3 separate regions of the Homo sapiens genome follow, and all the other regions are linked to region 1. Evidence: fine-mapped expression QTL. A gene starts in region 1. Each other region holds a variant in brackets. All regions are shown on one strand. Distances are between the middles of the regions.

Region 1 (5,228 bases):
CTAGGAGAAATATTTTTTTCATCATGTACAATGGGAATGACGATACATACCTTACAGCATGGATACAGGTAATAAGTATATGTAAAGTACTAACAGCAGCAGCTGACAAGGTGAGATCTCAGTACATAGTACCAATTATTCTATAACTATCAAATAGGGAGGATGAGTTGACTATGAAGCAATAGATATTTTAGAAAAATGTAATGAACATATTAAAATCATAGGCTGAAACTGGGAGCAAATTTTATACGTTACAAAGACATTTCAATATCTTGATAAAAACAAAAATCACTGATCTAATGGTAATGACCATTCTCTTGTTACCTATTCAATCACACTTGTTAGCACACTCAGGAAGGCAGGGGGAAAAAGCATTTAATATGCACCTACTGCATACCATGAAGTGTGCCTGCTACTTTACATAGGTTCTCATTTAAATCACACAATCCTACAGAACAGAGTATCATTCTTTTACAGATCAGGCCACATGCTTTAAGACGTTAGAAAAAACTTGTTTGAGGTCACAAATTAATATTGGGAAAGACAGAACTCGAACCCGCTCTGTACATCTGTAAAGCCCACACTTTTCCATACTTCTCTATTACAATTTATCTGTTTGAAAGTCTTCTCTCCTGAAAAGGTGAGCTTCCAGACCCAAGAGCCCTGCCCTTCATTTCTTTAACCAGCTATCCAATAGAATGTCTAACACATGGGGGAACTCAATGAAAGAAACAAGTGACCGGAGCAGATGCTAGGCTTTGTTAATTCACTTTGTAGGTGCTTAACGCATAGATTTTCAGAAATACGAACAGGTAAACCTTCAGGCCTGACAAGCCCTACTGTTTCTACAAGAAGGGATGGATGAAGTTAAGCTAGTAATCTCTCTTCAAAATATATTACAAGATAAAAAATAAAATAAAAGAAAGTCAGTGGGAGACAAAGGAAAATCAGGACCAAAAACAAATGTCATCTTTATACTGATTTAATTTGATTCAAGCACAGACTACTTCCACTTCCCAGTACAACCTGCCCATATTGCTCTCGGGAATTCTAACTATCGGATTACCAGTGACCATAATGCTAAAAAACTGAATAAGGCTTTTTTTTTTTCAAGGCAAAAATCAATTCTAAAATTTGAAAATCTGCTATCAGTGCCGAATATCATGATACAAAAAGGGAAAAATAAAAGCTAAAATTAGTTATATCTCATCCACCCAAAATCAGGCTTCCCCTCACGTCTTTCTGCTCAGCGCCTACAAGTAGGTCTCTTCACACCAACTATGTTAATACCAACACTACATACCCTTAAGGAAGGTGGTGTAGCAAATTTCACACAAAATAATTTTTAAATAGACAAAACTGATAATGGAGATAAAACAAGAATCACACACTTTAGCTCAGTGCAACAATACCCTAGACTTGTCTTTATAAGGCAATACAGTATAACGAAATTTTAAAAGGCAAAAATAAAAGTAATCCTTAACCTAAAACGGACAAAATGTACAAACTCCAAGTAGAACAGGCATCAGGTAAGTCCTTTCCAACCTTGCCTTCCTCTCACCTTTCACTAGACAACGCAGGCTAGTGACTTCCTGGGGTAAGAAATCAAAGTGACCAATTCCATGGCACTATGGGAAGTGAGACTCGTCTCAACAGAGTTTTGTGTTTTAAAACAAGAAAGCCCAAAGCTTTGAAATAAATTAATTAATAGATGATGGAATTTCAGGTATTAATGAAATTACCATTACTCGACTGCAGGCAGCCGTGTCCTTGCAAAAAGACCATGTGATGCCGCCTGTGAACGCACAGGGATAGGCCTCTTAAGGCAGGACTGTAGCGCTGGAGCTAAAGGGCTTTAGCAGGGGTGCGCCTGAGTGTATGCAGAGGGCGGGTCCTGGCAGGACGAATTCACCGCCACTGCCAGAACGAACTATTCAGATTCACGTGGAGCAAGGGGCTCATGCAGAAGCAGTTCCCGGACCCGACACTCTGGGTAGGAGACCACTAAACCCGGCCCCTCAAAGCAGAGGTGACCTTGCCCTCATCGAGAGCGCACACAAGACGCCACTGTAAAAGGTGGGTTCGCTGCTCGCCTCCTCCCAGGCCCAAACAATCTCGCCCTGATTGTTGCTGGCCGCGCGGAGCAGGGGTCGGCTTAGCTCGGGGACTGAGGGGAGCTCCTCCTGCGCCGCTCACCCGGCGCTCGCCGAACAGGTCCAAGCGGCTGCCCTGGGGCTTGACATTGAAGGCGGCGCCCACGGGAGACCAGCTGGTGCTGACCCTTCGGGCCCGGATCCCGGCTTCGAGGCTTCCCCGGCCCGCCCGGCGGGGCGGCAGAGCTGCTGCTCTGGCTCCCAAGCCGCCCAGCCTTCCGACGCACAGCATTCTAGCACCAGAGCAGTCCCTTCCTCCAACGCAGATCCCTGCCCTGCTGCTTTCGCTGGGAGCGCGCGCTCCGCGTTTCCAAGGCAGCAGCCCACGCCGCCCCACGTGACGGCCCCGCTTCCGGGTCTGGGCGCGGCCTCAGGACGTGGGCACGTTGTCGTCCAGAGAGCAAGAGCGTCGCTCCCCCTCGCCTTCTCGGCCGCCCTCCCGGTTTACCGCCCCCTGTGTCCAGAGTAAGAAAAGGCTAGGGTTGCGCTTCCCTCCCAAGTTGACTAGGGGTGGGCGCGAGTAAAATCATGACATATTCGAATTCCAGTGGACATTAGATATTCTTTGAGAGACGGCAGGTACTTGAGTAAACAAGAAATGCCCACCATAGGCCTGAAGGAGAAGTTTCCCTTTTAACCTACTCTCTTGGTAAATTTATCCTGCACTTCTCTGTTTGGTGTCTCTGTCCGGTAACTTTTTACTCTTGCATAGCTCAGTTAAAAATTTTAGATGGGAAATAGTGAAAGAAGTCTAATGGGATTTTCCCTCCAGGGTTTCAGAATTGCCTGGGACCCGTGAACCCTTTTTTCCTTCCCCTTTCTCTCTTTTGGAATGGATTGTCTACCCTATGCCTGTCTCCCCCTCCAACCCCCGGTCTTTTAGAAGTGGATTAACTCGTCTCGCTTCACAGGATCACAGATGGAGAGACATTTTGCCACACGATGAATCACACAGTAAGTCTCCTCTGTAGCTTATTTAAATGATGTAGATGGTGAGAGGAGTTGATGCGGAAAGTGTTAAGACTTTTGGTAATGTTGACATGGTGCGAAAATGTATTTTGCACATGAGAAGGAAATCAATTTTGGGAACCAGAGGGCAGATTGGGTTGAACTGTGTCTCCCAAAATAGATGCTGAAGTCCTAACCCTCGGTGCCTGTACATGTGACCTTATTTGAAAATATGGAGTTTGCAATTATGATTAAGATGGGTCATACTAGATTAGGGAAGCTGTTCTTGTAAGAAGAGGAAAATTTGGCTGATACAGGAGGAGGACAGCCACCTGAAGATGGAGGCGGGGACTGGAGTGATGCTGCCACCAGCTGCCAGAAGCTGGAAGCAGCAAGGCTGCATCCTCCTGTATCCCCTTTGGAGGGAGGATGGCCCTGCTGCTACGGTGATCTCAAACTTCCAGCCTACAGAACTGTGAGAAAGTCCGTTTCTGTTGTTTAAAGACTCCCAGTTTGTGTACTTTATTAGGGCGATCCTAGAAAACAAGTAGAGATTCATGTCTGGCAAATAATGATCAAACAATGATTTGTTGGATAGAATGGTGATTAAAACCTAGGTTAGAAAATGAGCAAAATGGGAGGGAAAGCACCAGGACAAATAGCTAATGCATGCAGGGCTTAATACCTGCATAGGTGATGGGTTGACAGATGCAGCAAACCACCACAGCACATTTTTATGTAACAAACCTGCACGTTCTGCATATGTATTCCAGAACTTAAAAATACATTTTTTAAAAAAAGACAAAATGAGCAGTGTCTACAGCTTTCTGGAGTGTGACAGCATCACCAGCTTAAAGCTGTTACTAGTACTAAATGGAATAAACATTTCCCTCTAATTTCCCCTTAATGTCCTCAGAAACACAGATGAGGGATACATCTTCATATGACTCCTCAGAGCACTAAAATGATATCAAAACACTCTTCCCACAAGAAATGCACAGACAAAGGATTCTTCAGATAATAGGAATAAGAAATGTGAAATAAATTAGAATAAACCATGCAGCTATTTTAAATATTTACTCCTGGAAAAATAGTAAGTTACATAGAATCAGTTTTGGGAATAACTTTTCCGTTTTCACCTTTTTATGATTATTGTAATAATTGGAGGAATTAATAAAGTAAAACCATCTGAATAAGTTCATCCCAAGCTGATTCTGATGGATGGTCTGGCAGATTTATAAACTCTCCTCTGTCACTGGCTGCTGAACAGAAGGAACCCTGTGAAAGTTGTGTCATCGTCCTCATCAGCAAACAAGCCATTGAACCTCTCTCCTCCTGTCACCTGCAGCCACATCTCATCCCCGAGCTTCAGCTGCAGGACAATGCTGCCAGAGGCCTGGTCCTCAGAGCTCACGTAAGCATCTCTGGTGTGCAGTATTTTTACTCCGTTTTTGACCAAAGACACCTGAACATTCCTGGAGAAAACAGTGATGTGGTAGGTGAAGTAATAGACCCCAGCAATGTGGCACGTGAATTTCCCCACTGCTGTATCATAATGGTTGAATTCATTATACAGGATCTTATCAAATTTAATGGGCACATCTGAAGAAGGAAACTTGCTCAGCACCGTGAGCCCCACAGTGAAAGCACTTTTTGGCAAGACTAGAGTCTCACCGATTTTCCCTTTCTCTCCTCGATCTCCTTTCCAGCCTCTTATTCCCCGGACTCCTGGCTCACCCTGGGGCCCCGTGGGTCCAGCTTCTCCCTTGGGACCAGGCTTTCCAATAGGGCCCATGGGGCCCGGTAAACCAGTTGGGCCCAAAGGCCCAATGTTGCCCCTTGGCCCCTCAGGACCAGTGGGACCCACGTCACCCTTATTCCCCTTCTGCCCCTGAGGCCCAGTCTCTCCTCGGAGGCCTTTCTCTCCCATGGGCCCTGCAAGCCCCTTGGGGCCATGTTTTCCTGGGGATCCTCTTGAGCCTTGATCACCTTTGATGCCTTTTGCTTCAACTTTTCCATCTGCTCCTAAATAGAGAAAGAGCAAATAAAGAGATAGTTTGTGAAAGATTCCCTTGTGAACAACTTTGGTTTTTCTATAATTGAGCTCACAAATGAAACAAAGTAGTA
Region 2 (5,228 bases), 84 kb before region 1:
AAGCTATGACATTCAGCAGTGTAGGGGTATTAAATGTATTTTTGACTTATGATAGTTTCAACTTACAATGGGTTATTGGGACTTGACCGCATCATAAGTTGAGAAGCATCTGTATAAAATATAAGATACTCAGAGTGGGTATAAAAAACACTATCATGGCCAGGCGCGGTGGCTCATGCCTGTAATCCTCAGCCTTGGGAGGCCAAGACAGGTGGATTATCTGAGGTTGGGAGTTCGAGACCAGCCTGGCCAACATGGTGAAACCCCGTCTCTACTAAAAAAACAAAAGTTAGCCAGGAGTGGTGGCGCACACCTGTAATCCCAGCTACTCAGGAGGCTGAGGAAGGAGAATTGCTTGAACCCAGGAGGCAGAGGTTGCAGTGAGCCAATACTGCGCCACTGCACTCCAGACTAGGAGTCAAAGCAAGACTCCATCTCAAAACAACAACAACAACAACAACAACAAAAACACTATCAAAAAGAAAAAATTCTTTTGTATTATCTTCTAAAATTTAAAGCTTTACTTTTCACATCTCGGTCTTTAACTCTATTTTTTGTGTGCAGTGTGATACAGGGCTGCATTTTTTTTTCCATATAGAGATCAATCACTACAACACCACTTTAAAAAATTGTTCCTTCTTCATCCAATAATCTACAGTGTCACTCAACCTATATTTGAGAGTCTATTAATTTGCTGAGTCTGCCGTTGGGCTCTTGCTCCTGTTTCACTGATATCTGTGCATCCCTACACCAGTGTTAGACTGTCTTAATTCCTACAGCTTTATTTGAATTCAAGTTGGTGGTCAAGTCCACCAACTTGATGTCGGGAATGTTATAGGCTTGATGAATGCATTGACAAACAAATGAAGAAATGCAGAAGTTTCTAAGTAGGAAGAGTAGGCTATCTGTACAAATCTAAACAAACTCTCAGACACTTTTTTTTAAAGGCAAGCCTTAAAATAATGTCTTTTTTTCTCTAAACATAGCTATGCTTCTTTTAAAGACCTCTTAAAACAATTTACACAAAGAGCAAGTGATGGCTACTGAACGTGAATTGTGGAGCTAATCCCAGTAAAGAGATACATCTTTCTATTTTCTCAAAAGGAATTAGGACAAGGCACACGGACTTAGCATCACCCTTCCTTTCAAATTAAAAGTGATTTATGGATTGTTGATTCAGAATTTGGTTGCCACTAATACTTCATATTTGTATGTTAAATGATTACAGAGAAGAAATCTGGATGGTAAGGAAGTTTTCTTTTAAAAAGAGACATAATTACTTTATTATTAGACCTACGATAAAAAAGGGCAGAAGGCAAGCAACTCAGTCAAACTGAAGTTTTGTAGCTTTGGCAAGCATCCCAGTTCTCCTAATGTTAGTCTTCCTAGGACTTTACTACTTACTGGTCATGAAGTTTAACTCATATTCACAAAGAAGAATATAAGATGAGAACAAAAACATACAAGCCCAAAAGCAGGTGAATCAGGCAATGCTCTGTGAACTGGAAAATGCTAGTAAAATCTAGGCAATTGTTATTATTTATTCCATGAATAAATAGTTAGATTATTCTTATCACTATAAATTTTCACTAACACAGATAATCAAGAGCTTGGCAGTAGAAAGTATTAGAATAGTAAATTACATGTAAGATTAAAAAATTAGTTAGTATGACTGACATTATATACCTGTAGCAGATAATTAAGGTTCTAAGCCAATCGAAAACTAATGACAAGAGGTATTATGAAGATAAAATATCCTGTTGCTTCACTTGTCTGGTAAATACGATCTCTTCCCATGCATATTTGAGCATTAGGACCTGAAGATTTAGTGGACAATTGTAGTTTATTGATTAACTTAATCTCTTAGCACAACATATTCTGCTATCCAATCTTAGAGCAAATAAAACCACTTGACATTTATTCTGCTTTTTATAGTTTACAAAACACTTTCAAGTTAGCTCTCCTTCTGTTAGACCAACTAGGCTAGAAGGACATCGACCTGAACCTACCGGTAGTTATCAAACCATTCAGTCTGGGGGGATTGCCAGAGAATGAAAGGAACCCAGAAAAACACCGAGCTGAGAGGCAGAAAGAGAGAGAAACATTTCTAACGACATTGTGGGAGACCTAAATCCAACTTACTTGAAACACCCCTA[T/C]ACCCCTGCACCTTTCAGTTACAAGACTCAATAAATTCCCTTTTCTGTTTAAGTCCGTGTGAACCACGTTTCTATCACTTGCAGCTGAGAAAGGCCTGGGTAACATTAAGTCAGTCACATTGCTAACTGCACCAAGAATCACACTGTTAATTGCACTAGGAGTCACGGTGCTCAACTGCTCCTTACACGAGCCTTTGAGTGATGAAAAAAGCCTGTTTGTTTTGAACCCCCATACAATCACTTAACTACCTAGATGATCTCAGACAGGACATATAATGTGTCTGTGCCTCCAAATGAGCCCCAAATACAAGGATATAATTTAATTTATAAGGTTATTTTGAGAGCTAAATTAGAGATCTTTTCCCAAAGGAATTAGATAGAGTCTGGCGCCTAGAATCCAATAAATGGTAACATTACTCCTGCTCTCTCTCCTGACATGGTACTCAACAAGATAAGATATGTAAAGCATCTATTATAATTCCTGGTACAATGTAAGATACTCAATACATGTTAATTCTCTTTGCAATGAAAATGATTCAGGACTGGTAATCACATTCATCTTACATCACTATTTTTCACATTGTAGAAAAATAACTAAAAAGAAGAATATAGACCAACTCCAATGGCCTTTTTAACCCCCACATTTCCAAAAAGGTACAAAAACACTGTTAGAGGGAGGAAAATAAGAACATATAAATGGGTAGTTGGAAATATTAAATGAACCAGGCAATTTCCAGCATTTGAGCCATGTGAAGCCTCAACATAAATGTAGGGATTTCAAGTTCTCCAAAGGGGAAGATAATCACAAGCTACAGAAGTAATAGCAGAACCACTCAATACACAAAACAGAAGCCAAATGCTGGACTCACAGTATTTGGAACATATGGTAGGCCATAGAATTTCTCTTGTGTTTCCTTGAGAATGTCTGTGGTTGAATTCCTCAGGGGATGCTTCCCATGGTAGATTTGATCCAGAGTGGCATAAAAGACCTAGATAGATAAAAACATCTACTTAGTTTTGGTCGTCCATCCTCACATCAAGATGTGGTTGACCAAAGATGCTATAAGTGCACCAGAACAACAGTTACCAATCACAGTTGAAAACAGTCACAAAAATAAACTTACATGGTTTGAAATGTATTTCATACCACATTTAAGACCATGCTAAAGATTAAAAGGAATGCTCTCAACCTTTTCATAAATAAGAATATTAAAGAATTTTGAACCATACCCATAAGATACTCTTTATGTACAATGGCAGCAAATCAAATATGTGACACAAAACTGGAATTTTGCCAAAATATATGTAGACGGAAGGCCAGGCGCGGTGGCTCACGCCTGTAATCCCAGCACTTTGGGAGGCCGAGGCGGGAGGATCACGAGGTCAGGAGATCAAGACCATCCTGGCTAACATAGTGAAATCCCGTTTCTACTAAAAATACAAAAAAATTAGACAGGCGTGGTGGCAGGCACCTCTAGTCCCAGCTACTCGGGAGGCTGAGGCAGGAGAATGGCGTGAACCTGGGAGGCGGAGCTCGCAGTGAGCCGAGATTGCTCCACTGCACTCCAGCCTGGGAGAGACTCCGTCTCAAAAAAAAAAACCAAACAAAAAACAACAACAACAACAAAAAAATCTATATCTATCTATCTATCTATCTATCTATCTATCTATCTATCTATCTATCTGTAGGCAGAAATATACAAAACCAGTTACAACTTTAGACCCGCTGGATCTAACAAATGTTGTTTGGTTTCCTCCTGGAATCCTGATATATCTTAAATGAGAGAAATGAAACGGTCAGAATTCTAGTTTTGTGATAAAAGGTGAAAGAAAATTAAATAGGTGTGGTGGGGGTAGAGAAAGAAATAGCAATGCAGCATCTCGTGAGTATAGATGTATCGAAGAATTCTGATGCAGCTGTTGGAGAGGTTGGAACTAGACTCCCACACCTGGTGTCAGGAAGTACAAAGGAAGCAGCTGCTGTATAGGGAGGGCTCAACTAGATGACCAGGGGAAAAGGAGCACTCTCCTCTGAGTAGAGGATATAGGCCACTGAAACACAGTGGGAGAAGAAAGCATTAAAGAAAGTTTGGACATGAAATCTGCTGTTTACAAAGTACTGAAAACTAAATTTTGCAAAGAAATCTAAAATAAACATAAAGCATTTTTTCACTGCAACATCTGACTCAAATATTGTTTTTCAACACTGACTTGAACATTTGACTTCATGCAGGCAAGTAGAAAATGCTTTATTTTAAAGGACAAATTTTGACACGCAATTATGCTTCTGATATGTATCTTTGTGATTCAGAAATGGGATTTGTAGAGAATGTGCAGCTGTTGACTTGAAAGAAGTGAGGATTAGTTTGGTTAAAAGAGAAAATTTAAATGACCTCTGGCTTCTGGCTGCATCTAGATATAGAATTATGGTTCTAAATTATAAAGTTAAGTTTAAACCTTCCCTAGAAAAATACAGACATTTCCTAAATATAAATATTGCTTTCTTCTAACTGGTAATCTAAACATATAGCTAAATATAGCTCTTTCAATTCTACATTTTATAATGAGTAACGATGCATAAAGATAATCAGGGAGGCCAAAATTACTCAATGTCTTACCTATATTCTAACAGAGTAAATTATCAGGAACTGAAACTCTTACATTCTAACCTCAACTGAGGTGTTATTTTGCCCCAATGTATAAATAAATCAGAATTCAAGAGTTTCATTTCTTCAATTATGCCTTTTACAAAATGATATAAACATGGGGTAACTTTTTTGAATTATAAAAACAGAGCAAAATAAATTAAATATGAAAACAGAGCAAAATAAATTAAATGTGCATTCTTTTTATGCTTATTTGCTGATAAACTAAACAATTCCAAAGACATGAGCCTATCTGCCTACCCAGGGAGTCATGCATTCCTGGGGCCAAGAAACTTATTAAGTCACAGAAAAATGAAGAGCCTATTTTTAAAACAATAATTTTAAAAAATGTACAGTTTTAAAAACAGTGTTTTTTTTTTGTTTTTTTTTTGAGACAGAGTCTCGCCCTGTCGCCCAGGCTGGAGTG
Region 3 (5,228 bases), 29 kb before region 1:
CTGAGGCAGGAGGGCTGCTGGAACCTAGGAGGTTGAGGCTACAGTGAGACATGATTACGCCACTGTACTTTGGCCTGGGCGACAAAGTGAGACCCTGTCTCTAAAAAGAGTTGTTTAATGAAAAATAAAAATAAAAAATAGTAACTGACCAAATATTCTTAACTAAAGGTTAGGACACAATTATGCCTTGTAAGTAAAAATGGTTTTGGCAACAGTGATAGATGGAGACCAAAGAGAGGAAAATAAATGAAAATTAAGTGAGTAAGTGCTTCAAAACACTAATTGATCTTAGGCTACCTCATCCTGCTGGTATAGAAAAGAATATAGAAAGTTATTGTTTTCTGTTTTTATGACAAATGCTGAAATAAATAATTAAGCAAATACTTCTTATTTTGGAGAAGTACCTACTATGCTTTACTTGATGCTTCAATAATGCATAGTAATAAAAATATTTTAAAGCTTAATACCAAATAAATACACGTATCATCACAGTACATGCTGGTATGCTTTAATGAGGAAAAAAAAACAAAAAACTTACATTTTCTTCTATTACCTAAATCAACCTTAACTCTCCTACTTAAACAGCATATCTCAAAAACTAACTACAAGGGAAAAATGTTAATAAGTTGTTAAAGAGTAGGATTCTGAGATTTTTTTTTAAAAATTCCTATTGGGTATATAAAGTTGCTTCAGCTATAAACATTTTAAAGTGTGTTCACTGTGAAAAGAGCTCTATTTCTTGGGTTTATAACATAAAAATTACAGAAATAGTGTGTCTGTAGGGAGAGAAGGGCATACCTACTTTTCTCCAATATAATAAACACAGGAGGATATAGAAGCCAGAGGAGTACTTCTGTCAACTTAAGTTCCTTAAATCTTTATTTCATTTATATCCTTCCAGATGGACCAATAATGTGTTGACAATATATGTGTCCAAATAAAAATGAGAAAACATAAGAGCGCCACTGCACTCCAGCCTGGGAGAGAGCAAGACTCCGCCTCAAAAAAAAAAAAAAAAAAAAAAGGAAAATAACGTAGTACCACGCCATGTACCACTTTATTCCTTTACTGGTTCAGTAAACACATGCTGAGCCCCTACTCTGGGCCAGCAATGGGATACAACAAGGATTCCAGCAATGCTCACAGCCTAGGAAGAGAACCAGAAAGCTACGCAAGGGCAGAGCTGGAGAGGGACCAGATTGTAGAATTTTAAACAAGGAAATGATACAAGCAGCTGAAGAATACATGAGTGGAGCAGACCACGCCAGCAGAAAGAATGGTGTCAGGGGAAGGGTTTGTACTGTGGGCGACTCAGTGGATGACAGTAGCTGCTGAATAAACATTAGTTTCCTTTTTCCTTTTCCTGTACGGGTATTTCTTGAAAAACTTACCTTTCTGCACGAATCACACCACTGTAGTAAGGGGGGTCCCAGGGCATTACTTCCTACAATGGAATAATTCACTGTTAAGGAAAGCTACTGACTCTTTCATAGTTTTTATCAGCAACGTGGCCAGCCTATAGAATGTAAACCAGCTACTGTTCATGTAAATCAGAACAATTTTATAGAATCCCTTAAAAAATTGATAGCTTGGCAGAAAATACCTGGCTCCTTATTTTGACTTCCCTGTAATCAAGAGATAGTGAAGTATAACTAAGACCTACCCCAGAATCTGGGGAAAAGACAAACAAATGTCATTCTGAAGTGGTATCTAACAAAAGTAAACATTAACGAATTATATTAGCCATAATGAAATTTTTCCCAAAATGTAACCCATGTATTAATCCATAAAACACACTGTAGGTAAGATGAGTGTACTAAAGGTAGGATTAAGGTTCTTTCTAAATCTAAGCAAGAAGCTTTGGGTAGATATCAAAAATGAAAGCAGCAATTTAAAATGTAACCAAGGCAGAATTAACTCTAATCTTGGCAAAGAAAATATGTCATAAAGAAGTACTATAGTACTAGTTGCTTTTGATGATTGGCACATAATACTGAAAGAAGGGAAAGCTTGAATACTTGAATGACTGTCCTTCCTTCTAGGTGTCCAGGTGGACAAAAGAGTGGTTAAGAGACCAGGCTGTGAAGACAGACTGCCTGGGCTCAAGTTTCCAATCCATACCAGACTATAAACTGCATGATGACAGGGACTTTGTTTGCATCCTTCCCTATTACATTCCTGTCCCCTGAACAGTACCTGGCCCAGGGTAGTCACTCAGTAAATATTTGTTGAAAGAATCAACAGTACCTCCCAAAGAAGACTGCTGAATGTACTTAAACTATTAAGTAGAATATCTGGCATTGAGTAAGGGCTCAACAAATGTTGGCTACTCTCCTTATTACCATTATCCTTTAACATTTCAGTTTAGGCATAATCTCCTCCAATAACAAGGTGTTATTTCCCATATTCCATGGTAATACTTATATCATGGGATGCATGACAACCTAAGATACTTGTAGGCTTATTTTCTTTCTCCTCATGAGTGCCTGAAGGGCAGGGACTGCGTCCATGGAACCCTAGCCCCACAGTGTTCTGGTCCTGGCACACATTTTCTCTAACAGATGATTATTTGCTATCTGCTAGATGCAGACAGAGTGCAGGCTGTAATCAGACAAAAACAAGAGGATGATAGCCTAGGCAGTAGAAGGGCAAGTGACTCAACAATCAGAGGACAGTATGTCATGTCTACATTGTGCCATGTAAAACACAGCCCACAAGAAGAGTATTTAAATCACAGCGGAAGGTTAGGAAATGTTCTCAAGAAGGCAAAGCCTGAATTGAGTTTTATGATAGAAGCAGTTAATCCAGATGAGAAAGGGAGAAAGGCATTCCTGTAGGTGGTGTTTGTAAATGACTGGAAGCTGCTCACCATGCCATATTTATGTGGCCGGCACGTAAATATTAATTCAAATTAAAGAATCAAAGAAAGCAAAGCAAGGAAAGAAAGCAAAACTAAGTGAATAGAGATCACATGAGCATCACACAGGTATTAGGAGAGAGCAAAGAACACAGCCTCGGCTTGGAGGGGCAGCAGAAGATGAAGCTAGAGAAGGAGGCAAGGGCCAAATCATGAGGGCTTGGCGGGAGCAGCAGGGTAGTAGGAAGGGAAACTGGAGAATAACCAGGAGCTACTGAATAATTTTAAACAACAGAGTGACAAGATCAGATCTGCTTTTTAGACAAATCCCTCTGGTGGCAATTCATTCATTCATTATTCATTCATAGTTCAAATAAGTGTTGACAACCAATTCTATGCCTAACACTGGGCTAAATACATGGCTAAACTGTCTGAATCCAAGACGGCTTCGAGTGGAGCAAAAACAAAAGGCTAGAAACCAGTTAG[G/C]CAATCCCAGTTACCATCTGGGTGAGAATAATGATTGGGATCATAGCCCAGGCTATGGCAATGGGCACAGGAGAAGACACAAGAGTTCACAGGGAGGGAGAATCTGCAGGACCTAACAAATGATTATGGGGGAGGGGAGTGTGCAGTGCCTGGGGTGCTTGTTGAAACACAGATTGTGGAGCTCACCCCAGTTTTTGATTCAGTGGGTCTGAGGTGGGGCTCAAGAATTTGCATTTCTAACAGGCTCCCATGTGATGCTACTGCTTCTGGTCCAGGAACCACACTTTGAGAACCACTGGTCTGGATTAAGTATAGGTCCTGACCAGAGCAGCAGGGTGAATGGTGGCACCATTCACCAAAGCAGGGACTTCATGAGGAGATTGGGCATTTCACAAATATCTGCAGAATAATTGTATCCATAAGCTATATACAAATATCTACAGATAACAGTTTAAAGTCATATTCACTTTTACTGAATTAGCTTTTGGCAACACATTTTGTTTTTTATTTTTCTGTTTCTATAGTCACCAAACTAAATTCTTACCTATTATCTGGTTTCCCAAATAAGCCTACCTACCAGGTCAAGGTGTGCAGATGACTGTGCAGATGACTAACAGTAGTTACTTTGCTAGACACAGCTCCTTCCATAAATTAACAGACTGACATGCTACTCTACACATCGCTGAGTTTAATGGGATTAATCTGTTTCCTAGTGGCTGTATCTGGGAAGCTAGTAAACAGTTTGTAAATCTGCAAGGCCCATTTCCCTAAATCTTCCTTATGACTATGGCTCTGGCAGCAGCAACTAAGTCAAGAACTAATAACAGCATTTGGAAAAGAATGGTGTAGACAACCCCGGCAATCCTGTAGTGCCCTAGAACCAAATGGGAATGAGTCCTAATATCTGGACTCTCGACACTTTTCAGGGCACTCCCCCAATCACCTGGGCAGCATTCTGGCCATAACAATACTTGTCTATACTCTTGGATCACATAAGGAAGATCATATAATCATATGATTGAAAACAACACTTAAGTGTTTTTAGAATGTGGTATACTTTGTTAGTCAAATACTCAATTGGGCACCATAAATTAGCTAACAAATAAGCAAATGAACTGCAACATTAACACTGATGGTTAAAATTGCCACCTGCCAGATGAAGCCTCCACTGAGTCTCCTTAAAGTCTGCTTCAAACTGAGAAGCCAACATTCCACAGAATGAAAGCAGTCTTTGCATGAATATATACACATTGTGTTAGTGTATATACATAAAATATGTCGACTCCTCAACAAAAATGCTGTATGTACAGGCAACATCAGTTTGGGACATAAGAATCAAATATTTCAACATCTTTATTCACCAAAACCGAGGATCAGAAACAAGACTAAATGGACCTGTAGCCTATCACAAGAAAGTTCCTGAATCAAAAGATATTGATTTCAGTTGACAGACTGTCTATATTATAATAAAAATATTCCAACATACTTACGGAATTTTGAGGATTCAGTTTCATTTTCATCCCTCGTATCATCTCAAAATCTTTCAGAGTTCTATAAAACAGGTTTATCATTACTTGTTAGGACAAAATTTTAACAATTACATTATGAAAGGACTAGTTTGCTTATGTTACATTCCAATATTCATAAGATTAGATACAATTAGTAGTGCACACATAAATCACTATTAATCCAAATTTTACCTAAGTGTCATGAGAAATAACAATATATAAAGCAGCATATTACTGCGATTTCTACCTTAAAAAGCATCATGGTGGATAAATGTCTCAAGAGTACTAAAGCTTGGAAAAACTAGCAATGTCATTACAAATATGCAAAGCATTAATCACTAACTTTAAATCACTACTTTTTGCTATACCTTTAAAAG

Alleles and levels. Positions count from the first base shown, and alleles are read on the strand shown. Sizes are in standard deviations (SD) of each study's normalised expression. Not every link is listed here.
With allele G in place of C in region 3, the expression in aorta of the gene that starts at base 2,465 in region 1 is lower (moderate effect, 0.50 SD a copy in GTEx).

The links. PIP is the estimated chance that this variant, and not a neighbour inherited with it, causes the effect.
Region 2: its variant is fine-mapped to the expression of MIPEP in thyroid (GTEx, PIP above 0.99). The same link has a PIP of 0.9 or more in lung and visceral fat.
Region 3: its variant is fine-mapped to the expression of MIPEP in aorta (GTEx, PIP above 0.99).

What each region holds. Positions count from the first base shown.
Region 1 is chr13:23,886,936-23,892,163 of GRCh38, forward strand. MIPEP (mitochondrial intermediate peptidase) reads right to left here and starts at 2,465. Exons shown (of 19, transcript NM_005932.4): 1 at 2,197-2,465. The coding sequence starts at 2,385. It overlaps C1QTNF9B (C1q and TNF related 9B), which reads right to left. Exons shown (of 5, transcript NM_001007537.3): 5 at 4,164-5,126. The coding sequence ends at 4,354. It overlaps PCOTH (prostate and testis expressed opposite C1QTNF9B and MIPEP), which reads left to right and starts at 1,933. Exons shown (of 4, transcript NR_172510.1): 1 at 1,933-2,076; 2 at 3,065-3,107; 3 at 4,450-4,596; 4 at 4,678-5,168. RefSeq lists enhancers at 2,245-2,745, 2,805-2,864.
Region 2 is chr13:23,802,925-23,808,152 of GRCh38, forward strand. MIPEP (mitochondrial intermediate peptidase) reads right to left here. Exons shown (of 19, transcript NM_005932.4): 16 at 3,026-3,145. Among named protein-coding and RNA genes, the nearest start is that of PCOTH, 83 kb to the right of the region's middle. RefSeq lists an enhancer at 3,998-4,147. The variant T/C (reference allele first, on the strand shown) is at 2,157.
Region 3 is chr13:23,857,469-23,862,696 of GRCh38, forward strand. It overlaps MIPEP (mitochondrial intermediate peptidase), which reads right to left. Exons shown (of 19, transcript NM_005932.4): 9 at 4,834-4,894; 10 at 1,392-1,444. Among named protein-coding and RNA genes, the nearest start is that of PCOTH, 29 kb to the right of the region's middle. The variant G/C (reference allele first, on the strand shown) is at 3,344.